Linked DNA regions of Homo sapiens. The protein of the gene in region 1 interacts with the protein of each later gene in a pairwise test. Each region holds a gene or a part of one and is shown on either strand. Other genes may lie near its edges.

Evidence for each region. The genes of interacting proteins can lie anywhere in the genome.
Region 2: the proteins of LRP6 (region 1) and ATP13A2 interact in a two-hybrid assay, tested with the Homo sapiens proteins (one study listed by BioGRID and IntAct).
Region 3: the proteins of LRP6 (region 1) and AMMECR1 interact in binary tests that used the Homo sapiens proteins (3 or more experiments, as listed by UniProt).

The regions. Positions count from the first base shown.
Region 1 is NC_000012.12:12,181,832-12,187,044, forward strand, and holds part of LRP6 (low-density lipoprotein receptor-related protein 6 isoform b precursor), read right to left. Parts: coding exon 5,092-5,213; intron 2,281-5,091; coding exon 2,149-2,280; intron 1-2,148. UniProt on the Homo sapiens protein: Component of the Wnt-Fzd-LRP5-LRP6 complex that triggers beta-catenin signaling through inducing aggregation of receptor-ligand complexes into ribosome-sized signalosomes.
Region 2 is NC_000001.11:16,994,192-16,998,503, forward strand, and holds part of ATP13A2 (polyamine-transporting ATPase 13A2), read right to left. Parts: intron 2,985-4,312; coding exon 2,829-2,984; intron 2,306-2,828; coding exon 2,195-2,305; intron 2,110-2,194; coding exon 2,063-2,109; intron 1,974-2,062; coding exon 1,785-1,973; intron 1-1,784. UniProt on the Homo sapiens protein: ATPase which acts as a lysosomal polyamine exporter with high affinity for spermine. Also stimulates cellular uptake of polyamines and protects against polyamine toxicity.
Region 3 is NC_000023.11:110,258,349-110,262,660, reverse strand, and holds part of AMMECR1 (nuclear protein AMMECR1), read left to right. Parts: intron 1-4,312.

The sequences.
Region 1 (5,213 bases):
GACAAGAATCTTTGTGCTTGATAGGAATGTTCTAAAATTGGATTGTGGTGATAACTGCGTAACTCTGTAAATTTACTAAAAAGTCACCGAATTGTACAATTTAAAAAATGGATGGATTTTATATGCTATGTAAGTTACATCTCAGTAAAACTGTCTTAACAAAGAGAAATACAGGGCAATACCTCACAGAATTGAGGACAAAGCAAGCTATGGAGAAACAAACAGCTGCAATGGAGGGAAGGAACCAGATAAACATAACACAGTGGTTAAGAGTTGTGGATCCAATATAATTTGATTCAAGAAGCTACACAAACTTTGGGAAAATATCTAATCTCGCTAAGCCTAGTTTCCCCATCTATACCTTGTAAGGTTGTTGTAAGGATTAAAGGAGATAAATCTAAAACTCAGGAAAGTACTGAACATTTAAGTACTCAAGAAATATTAACTAATACTTAACAACAGTATTAAAAAATAAAGATTTTCAGATTTTTATTTCACTGAATTTTAAATTAGGTTTATTTATGAACTGTTTAAAGCCCAAGCCCCAAATACTTAACCACATAACCAAGAATGAAGATACTGAGCTCAATCTTTTTTTCATTTTAAATTGTTCAAGTAAACCACCAGCAAAAAATCGTCTAACTATAGGAAGCTAATAAAAGACAGTAAGCAAATTGACAACTGAAAGAATAAGAAAAGATTCCCAGCTAAATAAATGAGTCCAAAACAAAATACTGGCATATAAACTTCAAGAATCAATCTGCAATTACAAGTCAAAAAACTGAGAAGAGGAGTGAAGCCTCTCAATATCAGCCCTTTCACTCTAGAGCTAATTATAAATGAATTCCAACTTGAAGAAAATACAGCCCAAATGCCACTGCAGGAACCAAGTAGGAATAACTTTGTACAATTCACTGCCCCGGCTAACAACCAAAAGGAGCCAGCCTAGAACTTCACAAAGAAGTCATAGAGCTGTTAATTTGAGCAAGGTGATCAAAACAGAACAGTTAACTTAAGGCTACTACATGCCAAATGCACACATGAAATTCAAAACTGGTTAAATATGTACACTTGCACTGCTGTGAGGGAGCAGATAGACCATTATTGCTAAAATAAATCCTCTGTTTTAAAGTCAGGCTACATTTTTAAAGAAAAAAGCAACATTACAAAAACCTTTTGTTTTAAATTGAAACCAAATTGCTGTCTGCCATGGAAACCATTTGACCAAGAGTCAGCCAGCTTCACCTTTTACTATGAGGATAATTTATCAATGCCAAGTCATAACAAACATCCTGTACACAGACTCAATTCCATCTCTCTGACTCCCTGGCCCCCTTGCCAGGGACTCTAACACACTCCAAAACACAGGCTTCTGCTTTTCAGAGTTAGATAAAGAAGCCACAGCTAAATACAACAATTTTCTTACCAGGTCTTGCTGGTTGCTAGAGAACCAGATGGTGATCCATAGGGGTGAGAATGAAGAATAACATTCTCATTAAGAAGAAAAACAGAAGAACTGGTGTTCTTCCAAACTGGAAGTCCCTTAAAATGTCCTAAATCAGTATACTTTCTCCAACGTGCCCTCTCTCTATAGGGAATTAAGAGTAAGGAGAACAGGCAAAGTGTGTTTCTTAAGTATAAAAAGAAGTTGTTTTAAATATGGATTTTTTTTCCCAGCTCTGAAAGCATCTCTCTGTTGTTAAAAAGCAATTTAAAACATCCTTAAATAATTTGTTATAAAATATATCTCATGATATTCTTTGTAGCTAAAAGTTTAATAAACATACTTTCTTTCACAGAGGTTCTTTATTCACAAATGCTACCTGTTAAAAATATATTCCTTATGCGACTACTCATTTCCATAGTTATCAACTGTGATATCAATGACTATGAGATTTGACAGAAAAGATACAACACGTAACTTTTTTCAAAAATATGTTATTTAAAACACTAAAATAATTTATAAAATAGCATTCAAGTGATGCCACAGAACAAAACACTCCTATTCTATAACCATGTGTGAAGACTGTGAAATTAAGTGACTGGTCTCCCAAAGCAGTATAACCTAGAGAGCTGATTATAGAGAAAACAAATCATGAAGAATTCCAATAGTTATAAAATTTTTCATTTTGGATAATATCTTCTTACCATCTTTGCAGGTTTTTCCATTCTCCAGGAGTTTGACCCCAGTGGGGCAAGCACACTGATAAAAAGGCTTGACTGGAGACATCAAACACAAATGGGAACAACCCCCATTGTCAATTCCACATGGATTTGTGGCTGTCAAATATAAATCACATTGATTAATATCAATGATTACTAAGTACACAAAGGTTAACAACCATAACATGAACAACTGTGATAAGCCAAAATTATTACCAAATGTCATGCAGGTGCTTGACTATCAAACCATCTGCAAAGACAGGAATTAATCAGTGTGAATTTACTTAGTATTTTGTAACCAAAGAGGAATACACAAGAAGTAAAGCAGGAGATCCCTGCCCTAAAAGAGGTTACAATTTAGTCAGTTAAACAAAATTAACAAAAAGCAAAACTAAAAACAAACAAACAAACAAACAAAACCAATAAAACTAAGTGCTATTTTGCACATTATAGACAATAAGTACAGAGTCAAATGGGAAAAAAACCGCTGAGGTTTAAAGAATTGAAGAAGAGCTTTGTGGAGTATACAGCACGGGAGCCTTCAAGGATAGGAAGGATAGATAAGAGGACATTTCAAGTATGGTAAAGCTATCTGAATAAAACTTTGGGGGCTATAAACTGGGTAAGATATTAAGGTGAACAGTATAACTGGAGGTTAAGGTTTCTACTGACTAATAGGAACTAAAGCTGAATGAATACAAAGAATGGGAATAGATTAAAGTGAAGGACACTGAAAGCCAAGAAAAGTAATTATGTTGAAAAGTCATGCCTTGGGAAGATTAACATAGAAGGGATAAGCAGAAAAAAGGGGAAAATGAAAATCAGAGAAAACTAATTAGCAAACTTTGGAAATTATGGAAAGGGATATGTCCAAACAATACTCATAGAAAAAAATCAACATAAGATGGAGACCAATGGAACATGAAAGATAAAAGTAACCAACATGAAAGATAACTGCAAATTCTCAAATTAGTAAAACATAAAGGACCAACAATGCCATTTAAAAAGAAAAACAAGAGGCCAGGCACGGTGGCTCGTGACTATAATCCCAGCACTTTGGGAGGCCTAGGTGCGTGGATCACTTGAGCCCAGGAGTTTGAGACCAGCCTGGGTCACCAACATGGTGAGACCCTACCTCTATAAAAAATACTAAAATTAGCCAGGTGTGGTGGCATATGCCTGTAGTCCCAGCTACTAGGGAGGCTGAGGTGGAAAGATCACTTGAGCCTGGAAGTTCGAGGCTGCAGGGAGCCGTGATCACATAAACGCACAACAGAGCAAGACTCTATCTCAAAAAACAAACAAAAAACAGGGAAAATTCTCTTTTGAGGGCTATGAAGAATAAAAAAATTCATACAAGTGACTGAACATTTTCTTTTGTACAGAAGAGTAACACATACACTTAAAAACATTTTTATGGGCTCATGATCATCAGATTCCAACATAACACTTTCAATATTTGATTATCTCCCCCTAAATGGAGAGCTAATATAAAGCAACATATGTTGCAAAATCTCTTCATTTTTGGCTATGTAATAAAATCTGAAATACACTCAGACAGATGCCAGACATTTATTTACACAAAAGTGCCAAACCCTTAACATTCTCGTATTCCTTTTAAACCTAATTCCAGTCCTCTCTTACAAGTTCTCAGCAGTCATAGCCCGAGTCATTGTAAAGGCTGACCAAACACAGAACCAAAACTAAGGAAAACAAGGTGGGAGGGGTACACAGAAAAGTTTAAGTAGGTATTTTATTTAGCAAGCTGAGGTACTTAAATTCAAATATATTCTAGATTAACAGAGTTTTCATTTAAAAAGAAGAGGCGTTTTTGTGTGTGTGTGTGTTTTTTGTTTTTTTTTTTTTTGAGACATAATTTCTTTCTTGTTGCCCAGGCTGAAAGTGCAATGGCGTGATCTTGGCTCACTGCAACCTCTGCCTCCCGGGTTCAAGCGATTCTCCAGCCTCAGCCTCCCAAGTAGCTGGGATTATAAGCACACGCCACCACGCCTGGCTAATATTTTTGTTATTTTAGTAGAGACGGGGTTTCACCATGTTGGCCAGGCTGGTCTCAAACTCCTGACCTCAAGTGATCCACCTGCCTTGGCCTCCCAAAGTGTGGGATTACAGGCATGAGCCACCGCGCCTGGCCCAAGAGTTTGTTTTTTAAACACACTCACATCAACACATTCAACTACATACTGAAAGAAATAATATGAACAAAAAAACTCATTTGTGTATAAGCCTAGCATATAAGCTATCTCAATTTTTAAATTATCTCTCTCTTCTCCACCTCTAAAAGCGCTGACTCAAAAAGGCTGAGGTGGTCTGTAGTGACAGGCTACAAAATGGTCTAGGCTATTGCCTAACCTGAATTATACTTTTACATTTTCCCTTTTTTTTGAGCAAAGTCTCGCTCTGTTGCCCAGGCTGGAGTGCAGTGGCACAATCTCGGCTCACTGCAATCTCCACCTTCCGGGTTCAAGTGACACTCCTGCCTCAGCCTCCCAAGCGGCTGGGACTACAGGTGCACACTACCACACCCCATTAATTTTTGTATTTTTTAGTAGAGACAGGGTTTCACCAGGTTGGCCAGGCTGGTCTCAAACTCCTGACCTCATATGATCTGCCTGCTTCAGTCTCCCAAAGTGCTGGGATTTTAACTTTTTTTTTTTTTTTTTTGAGACACAGTCTTTCTCTGTCTCCCAGGCTGGAGTGCAGTGGCGCAATCTCAGCTCACTGCAACCTCGGCCTCCCGAGTTCAAGTGATTCTCTTGCCTCAGCCTCCCAAGTAGGATTTTAACTCTTTTTTATTCCCGCCAACTATCTTTGGATATGCCCTCCCTCCTCCTGATCCTCACTAAAGCCAGACATTAGAGTGCTACAAAGCTGTTCCAACTTGCAATTTAAAAATCAAGGATCACTTACCATTTGGCTGCCTCTGTTGGCTGAAGGCATGTATATCCATGGGAGAGAAGATGTCAGAATGGATTTCACGCAGACCCTCACCAGTATACTTGTTGCAAGCCAAAATGGAGTGTGTGCTCCAG
Region 2 (4,312 bases), on another chromosome or scaffold:
TCTCTCATTTATTTATTTATTTATTTATTTATTTTTATTTTTATTTATTTTTATTTTTTGAGATGGAGTCTTGCTCTGTCGCCCGCGCTGGAGTGCAGTGGCGCAATCTCAGTTCACTGCAACCTCCACCTCCCGGGTTCAAGTGATTCTCCTGCCTCAGCCTCCCGAGCAGCTAGGATTATAGGCACGCGCTACCTCGCCCACCTAATTTTTGTATTTTTAGTAGAGACGGGGTTTCACCATGTTGGTCAGGCTGGTCTCGAACTCCCGACCTCAGGCAATCCACCCGCCTTGGCCTCCCAGAGTGCTGGGATTACAGGCATGAGCCACCACGCCCAGCCTCAATATATCTGTTGAATGAGCGCATGAGTCAGTGCCTGCGTTCCCCATCCTAGACTCTAACTGCCCAAGTACGCGTCTGGCTCCTTGGCTAGCCTGGGAACTATAAGAATCTGGTCATCCCCCTCCCCGGTTTATTTATTTTTTTTTGAGACGGAGTCTCACTCTGTTGCCCAGGCTGGAGTGCAGTGGTGTGATCTCAGCTCACTGCAACCTCTGCCTCCCGGGTTCAAGCGATTCTCCTGCCCCAGCCTCCCGAGTAACTGGGACAACAGGCATATGTCACCGTGCCTGGCTAATTTTTTATATTTTCAGTAGAGACGGGGTTTCACCATATTGGCCAGGCTGGTCTTGAACTCCTGACCTCATGATCCACCCGCCTCGGCCTCCCGAAGTGCCGGGATTCCAGGCATGAGCCACTGCGCTGGGCCCCCTCCCCAGTTTAAAAGCGCTCTGTGGCCCCCGACAGCCTCTGAATGTCACCTAGCCTCTGTCAACCAGGCCACTGCCTACCCGGCCCTGTCCTGCTCCACCACTCCCTGTGCTCAGGTACGCAGCACATCTGTGCCACGCCACTCCCTGTGCCCCAGGCACACGGTACATCTGTGCTATGACACTCCCACCTTTTACCCTTGCTTCTCCTCGACCTGCCCCTCACTGAGGTCACTGAGGGACCTGCTCAGGGGGCTTCCTTGACTGCCTTCTCTCTAAGGAAGTGTCCCCATCTAGAACCCATCAAGCTATCCCACTGGCTTCCTTCCTAAAACCCACTGCCCACTCCTCAGCCCCAGCAGCTCCTTTGTGCACTCCTGGATCACTTACTTTGGTGGGGGACACACACACTCCAGTGACCACAAGGATGCCTGTGTTGGTCACTGCTGGGCCCCAAGGGTTGGGAGCAGCACGGGATGCACACTAGGGCCCCAGGTCCCCACCAGTAATTTTTTTTTTTTTTTGAGTTTTGCTCTGTCACCCAGGCTGGAGTACAATGGCATGATCTTGGCTCACTGCAACCTCTGCGATTCTCCTGCCTCAGCCTCCCGAGTAGCTGGGATTACAAGCATGTGCCATCATGCCTGGCTAACTTTTGTATTTTTAGTAGACGGGGTTTTGCCATGTTGGTCAGGCTGGTCTTGAACTCCTGACCTCAAGTGATGTATCTGCCTCAGCCTCCCAAAGTGCTGGGATTACAGACGTGAGCCACCGCGCCCGGCCCCCCACCAGTTCTTGAACACATGAATACATGATTCTAGACATTTCATCTGCCAGACCGTGAGCCCAGTGAGGGCAGGAGTGGGATGGGGTGGATCCTCTGGGGGTTTCCATCCCTAGACAGGACCTGGCATCCTGTGGGTGCTGCTGAGAGAATAACGCGGGTGTGGAGGCCTCACTGGGGCGCCTGTGGCTGTCCCGCTCCCCTGCACCAACCCCACCTGCGGCCCCACCTTGTCGAAACACACCAGCTGCAGCTTGCCCCCCAGGTTGATGCGCAGTGGGTGGATGCAGAAAATGCCCTGTCTCCGCAGTCGGCTCTGGGCGTAGAGCGTGCACACAGTCATGGCAGCAGGCAGGGCAGGTGGCACCACCACGGTCACCAGGTCGAGAGCCCGGATTACAATCTCATTCAGAGGCACCTGGCAGGGGGCACCATGAATGTGAGCACCTGGCTGGTTGGCCCCTGGGCCCTGCTGGCAGCACCCCCCACCCCACCCCCAAGGCTTACCCGGTTTCGGTAGAGGATGAAGATGCTGTAGATGGTGCCGAGGAGAGCTGTGGGGACAGCGAAGGACTGAGTGGGATTTGGGACCCAGGTGGGGGGGGCTATGGGCAGAGGAGGGTGCAGGGGGCCACTCACCCAGGACAGAGAGGGCAGCCACAAACTTCATGCTGTGTTTATAGAACTTGAAGTTGATGGGCCGGGGGTGCAAGATGGAGCTCACCAGGCCCCCTTTTGCCGTGCAGAACCCTGGGGAGGAGGCGGGGACCCCAAGGCAGGGAAGCCAGGGTGAGGGCAGGCCTTCCCCACCCCTAGCCCTCCCGACCCGTGCCTCTGGAGTTGCAAGACATGATGTTTGTGAAATTAGCCATCAGCAGTGTGGAGTCCTAACAGGTCTGGCCCGGCTCTTGTAGGCTTTTTAAGGGCTTTAAACAAGGAACTAGTGGATAGCATCTAAACACTGGGTGGTTCCACTGAAAATCCAGACACAGGGAAGGCTCCTGCCTGCCCGCTACATCCCTGCCCGCTCCAGCACTGTAACCCCGGCGGCTCCTCCAGATCTTGCAATGCTTGGCCTTAGTCTGGCCCAACTTCTGCTAAGATGGGAATGCTCAGACCCCAGATGGGGGGCAACTGGCCCGAGGTCCCACAGCAGGGCAGCAGCAGAGGTGGGCGTGGGGTCCAGGGTTCCAGGTCCCACCCTGCCTCACTCCACCTCTCCCAAGGGTGCTGAGCCCGGGATCTCTCTCAAGCCCAGCCTCCCGGCTCATACCTGTGCGGGTCACCACTGCCAGGACGTGCGGTCCCACATAGGCCCGGGCCTGCAAGATGAGGGTCCCGCAGAAGAGTGTGTGCCGCCGGTGTGTCTCTGCACAGTAGGGCCCCAGCCCCTCCGGCAGTGCCGTCTTCAGCACTGGAATGCTCTCTCCTGGTGGGGAACGTGGTGTGAGGACCACTCCACACCCCTCCCTCCCACCAGCAAACCAGGAGTTCTGTGTAGAATTGTCCCACAAGCTCTAAGTCTCAGTTAACTCTGTAACCAGGTGTGAACAAGAAATCACAGCCCCATTTTACAGAGAGGAACACTGAGGCTCAGAGAGGACGGAGATATAAAGGCACAGGGAGACACTCCTGGAAGCAGGTGGCAGCCAGCTCCCTGGAACCAGCGGGGGGGGGTGGGTCAGACAGAGCATGTGTGGGCATCATGTGTGCAGTGGGGCAGGGTGGGGGAGTCGTTCTCTTTCTGCTGGAATTATTTTATAACATGCATGGAGTGCTTTTCTAACTCCAACCAACAGAAATATTTACAAGGGGCCAGATGCGGTGGCTCACGCCTGTAATCCCAACACTTTGGGAGGCTGAGGTGGGCAGATCACTTGAGGCCAGGAGTTCGGGACCAGGCTGGCCAACATGGTGAAACCCTGTCTCTACTAAAATACAAAAATTAGCCGGGTGTTGTGGTGGGCATCTGTAATCCCAGCTACTTGGGAGGCTAAGGCAGGGTAATAACTTGAACCAGAGAGGCGGAGGTTGCAGTGAGCCGAGATCGTGCCACTGCACTCCAGCCTGGACAACAGAGTGAAACTCTGTCTCAAAAGAGGAGGGGAGGGGAGGGGATGGGGTAAGGAAGGGGAGGGGGAAGGAGGAGGGGGAGGGGAGAGAAATATTTACATGGAGGGGGCAAATATTTCCATGAGTTGGAGTGAGAAAAGCACTGCATGCTCGCCATGGCCCTGTGAAGTCCTGGGCAGGCTGCCTAGCAAACAGTGGCACTCCCTTACTGAATGCCTGCAGGCTGGGACTATTGAGCACCTACTGTGTGCACATTCCTGCAAGGGAGTCAGACAATCCTGCCATGTCTGCCTCACAAGAGATGAGCAGATGAAGTATGTGTGGACAGTTTGTGGAGGGCAGGGCTCAGGGCGTGTGCCCACAAATCATACTGATCACAATTACTACTTTTTTTTTGTTTTCTGAGACGGAGTCTTACTCTGTCACCCAGGCTGGAGTGCAGTGGTGCGATCTCGGCTCACTGCAACCTCCACCTCCTAGGCTCAAACGATCCTCCCACCTCAGCCTCCCAAGTACCTGGGACGATAGACGTGCACCACTACACCTGGCTAATTTTTTGTATTTTTGGTAGAGATGGGGTTTCAACATGATTTCCAGGCTGTTTTCGAACTCCTCACCTCAGGCAATCCACCCACCTCTGCCTGCCAAAGTGTTGGGATTACAGGTGCGAGCCACTGCGCCTGG
Region 3 (4,312 bases), on another chromosome or scaffold:
AATTGGGTTTTGTTTAAAGAAAAAAATAAATTCTTTTGCCAATGTTGGCAAGGGGTGAAAACATCCAACTTTTCTGGACTTGTCCATTTATATCCTAGGGTAATGACCAGAAGAATTACAGTATAATTTTCTGACAATAATGTGATTCTGAATGAATTGTTCAAATACTTGAAGTTGGAAATTTGCCTACATTTGTATACCTTGTTACCCTCATTGCAATCTATAGCTCTTCCTGTTTACTTTTCATCTTTTTTCTCATGTTTCTATACAGCTTCCTCAAATTGTATATATCACATTAAAGAGGCGTGTGTGTGTGCGTGTGTATACATATGTTTGTGTGTGTATACACACATGCACATACCTGGTTTTACTTCTCATTTTTGTTTGGCTTAATTTCTTTTGTATAACAAGATATTAACAATCATACTATTTGGAAAAGATGAACAAAAGAAAACAAGTCTTACAAAATACAATTAATCTTTTTTCCTGGATTCATTTTAGCATCAAAAGTTGTAAGGAGTCATTTTTAAAAGTTGGAATATAATATTTTTCTGTTCAGTAGTGTGCTTATCATTTTTACGTATTATGTTATTATGATTATTTTTGTTAATGGCTGCCATTTATTAAGAATTTACTATGTCAGACATTGTTGAGGAGCTTTACATGCATAGTCCTTGTAATAACCCTTAGGTACTAATATCTACATTTTCAAAATGAGGAAACTGAGAATTAGGTAATTTAAATAATTTACCCACTCACACATCTATTAAGTGATAGAACCAGGATTCAAACCCAGAGCATGTGTCTACAAAATCCATCCCCTAACCGAGGCAAAATTTTCTGATTATTTATGTTTTGCAGCTTTGTCATGAAAATAATGAACTTGAAAGCAAGTTACTATAAATTTTATAAATCATAGATCAGTAATCCTTCAAAAATTCTAGTTAGGAGTTAAGACTGAAATTTTGCAACAGGAAAATCCATAGATATTATTATGGAAAGTATACAACTCAGAGTTGTATAGAGCAGACAGAAGAAAATTGACTTGAACTAATATTGTATTAAGGATAAAGCTTATTACAAAACAATACTACTGTAGGATAGGAAATTGTATTCTTTGGCTACATGGACTAGACTTTAAGAATACAATTTTTTTTGAACATAAAAATTGGTGATTCTTGGCTTCTGGTCATCCCACCTTAAAAACCCATAACTCACAAAATGAATAAATAGAATTAAATGAACTTAGGGGATAGGGGCATAAAGGAGGGAGAAAGCAAAACAAAAAACAAAATAAAACAAAACAAAAAATAAGCAGTGAAATTAAAGGCATTCTAGGTATAGGCATCTTTTTAAAAATTCAAATATCCGGTTCATCTGTGATTAGATAGACTATTGTTTGATTTTCAGAATGTTACTCAATTATATCTCTTCTTTTTTTTTATTGTGGGGAAATATATGTAACATAAAATTTACCATTTTAACCATTTTTAAATGTATAGTCCTGTGGCCTTAAGCGCAATCATGTTGTTGTACAGTCATCACCACCATCCATCTCCAGAACGTTTTTCATCTTCCCCAACTGAAACTCTACCCATTAAACATGAACTCCACATTCTTCCTCCTCCAGGCCCTGGCAACCACCATTCTACTTTGCGTTGCTATGAATTTGACTACTCTAGGTACCTCGTATCAGTGGAATCATATGATATTTGTCATTTTGTGACTAGCTTATTTCACTTAGCATAATGTCTTCAAGGTTCATCCATGTGGTAGCGTGTGTCAATTTACCTTCTTTTTAAGGCAGAATATATTCCATTGTATGTATATACCACATTCTGTTTATCCTTTCATCCATTGGTGGACGTTTGGGTGGGTGGCTTCTACCTTTTGGCTGTTGTGAATAATGCTGCGATGAACATAGGTGCACAAAATATCTGTTTGAGTACCCTTTTTCCTCTTAAAAGTGAACCAGTTTATAGAAGACAATGATCTAGCTTGTGTGTAGTCCCTTAACTCTAAAACCTTTCTTAAAAATATGACCAGATATTTTTTAAAATGAAATGCCTATCCTGAATTAAGTTTTTATTTATAAATAAAATTATAAACTTTTAATTTTAATAAAATTATTTAAACTTTTAGAATTAAAGTACTTGTCATAGTCAAGTTGTATGTTCAAATATGACCGGGTATTTTTTAAATGAAATGCCTATCCTGAATTAAGTTTTTTAAATATATATATAAACATAATCTTTTAAATGTAAAGTACTTGTCAAAGTCAAGTCATATGTTCTCCTAATTGAAATTTTGATTTTAGATTGAAATAAAATCTTATAAAGAGGCTGAGGATTTCTTCTCAATTGTGAAAATACATAGTATTTGTGTAGGTAATGAAAAGTTTATGAGAAGTACATGGAACTATTATAAATAGACTATTCTTTGTCTGACCTTGAAGGATCTGGGTAAAAGCAGGAAAGATTATAGAAAATACGAAGCAGGATGGAGAGCTCAGAATTATTGATAAAAGTCTATCCATAGAATTTGGTGATAAAGTCCACAAATTACCCTATTTATCATTGCTCAAGACTTCAAAGTAGAAATATTCTTTGTCCGAGCTGAAGGAGATAATTTCCAGTATTGTGTTTATGGCTTTTATATATTAGAAAGCAGAGGCAGATTCATTTCCCCAATTTTAGTACTTAGAAAACATACTTTTATAGAGAGGAAAATTACCACTAATATAGATGAATATAAACATCTCAGTCAAAAAAGATTCCTGGCCGGGCGCGGTGGCTCACGCCTGTAATCCCAGTAATCCCAGGCCAGCGGATCACGAGGTCAGGAGATCGAGACCATCCTGGCTAACACGGTGAAACTCCGTCTCTACTAAAAATACAAAAAATTAGCCGGGCGTGGTGGCGGGTGCCTGTAGTCCCAGCTACTCGGGAGGCTGAGGCAGGAGAATGGCATGAACCCGGGAGGCAGAGCTTGCAGTGAGCCAAGATTGCGCCACTGCACTCCAGCCTGGGTGACAGAGCGAGACTCCATCTCTTAAAAAAAAAAAAAAAAGAAAAAGAAAGTTTCCTTAAAATTTTGGCTAATAAATTTCCCAGCAAAATGCAGATCTATTTCTTTATGTAAATTCAAGTTGGCAGTAATTTTTCTAGAACACATTAAGTAATTAATAGATGTATTCTTATTCAGCAAAACAGGATTGTGGTCTGTCACCACACTTAAAAGACTATCTTTTTTTCTCCTTTGTTGTACTTAGACCTCTCGGCAGTGAAATAATTATGCAGGTGCTGGCAGTTCTAGAACTTGATTGTGAACTATGCCACTTTTGTTGAACTACTTAATTCTAAGAAATTAGCAATGAAAGTTTAGCCCTTTCTAGGGAACAGTATGACCACATAAAAGGTGATGTGCTGTGTTTTGTTTTGGAGTTTTATTTTGTTCTGTGTGGGTTAGTGGGGTTGTGTGTCAGGGGAGTTTGAGGGGGGATTGATTGCTTGCATGGTACAAATATTCACTTTCCATTAGATTTTTTGAGATACTGAAAATAGCTAACAAACCTACTTTATTACTTTCAAAGGTCCTAGCTAGATTGGGTACTTATGGGATTCATTGTAAACTGAATTTGCTTTTATATTTTGGTGTTGTAATCTGGCATTTTTCTAAAGCAGTATGAGTTTAAAGCCATTATAAGCAGCATAATATTTTCCCTGTCATAGTAGACCATCGTGTGATCATTTTTATTCTTGATTATTTGGGTAACCACTCTAGGCTCATTGTGAACACTTAGATTAAACAAGTTCCTCCTCCCTCTCATTTAATATTAGTCTTTATGGTAGCATCACCCAGATTGATTTTTCTTATGAAAAGAAAAGCTGTATGAATCACCTCTGACTGTACATTATTGTTATGGAAGCTCATTCTGGAGATGTTAAGGCCAAACAATTTTTGGCAAGTGGTTGTGGCAAGACTTCTGGCTAAAGTATGCATTTTGGGGAAATAAATTAGATGTATCACAAACAATGCAAAATTAATTAGTTTAATTTACAACCTACATTTTTTGCCTTTTTATAAAAGAGATGATGGCCTGAGTCCTAAAACTTATACCTAATTTGATAGTTTCAGTTTATTAATTACAAAATGAGAAACATTTGTCAGATTTTATAGGCACTTAATTTAAGGTACAGTTTGGAACCTAGGTTGTTGTACGCTCTTTACTCAAAATTATCCACATGAAGCATGGTGAACTATCTGCTCAAACTGGAATCCTCATTTTAGCCATGAGGTTAATGCACTCCTT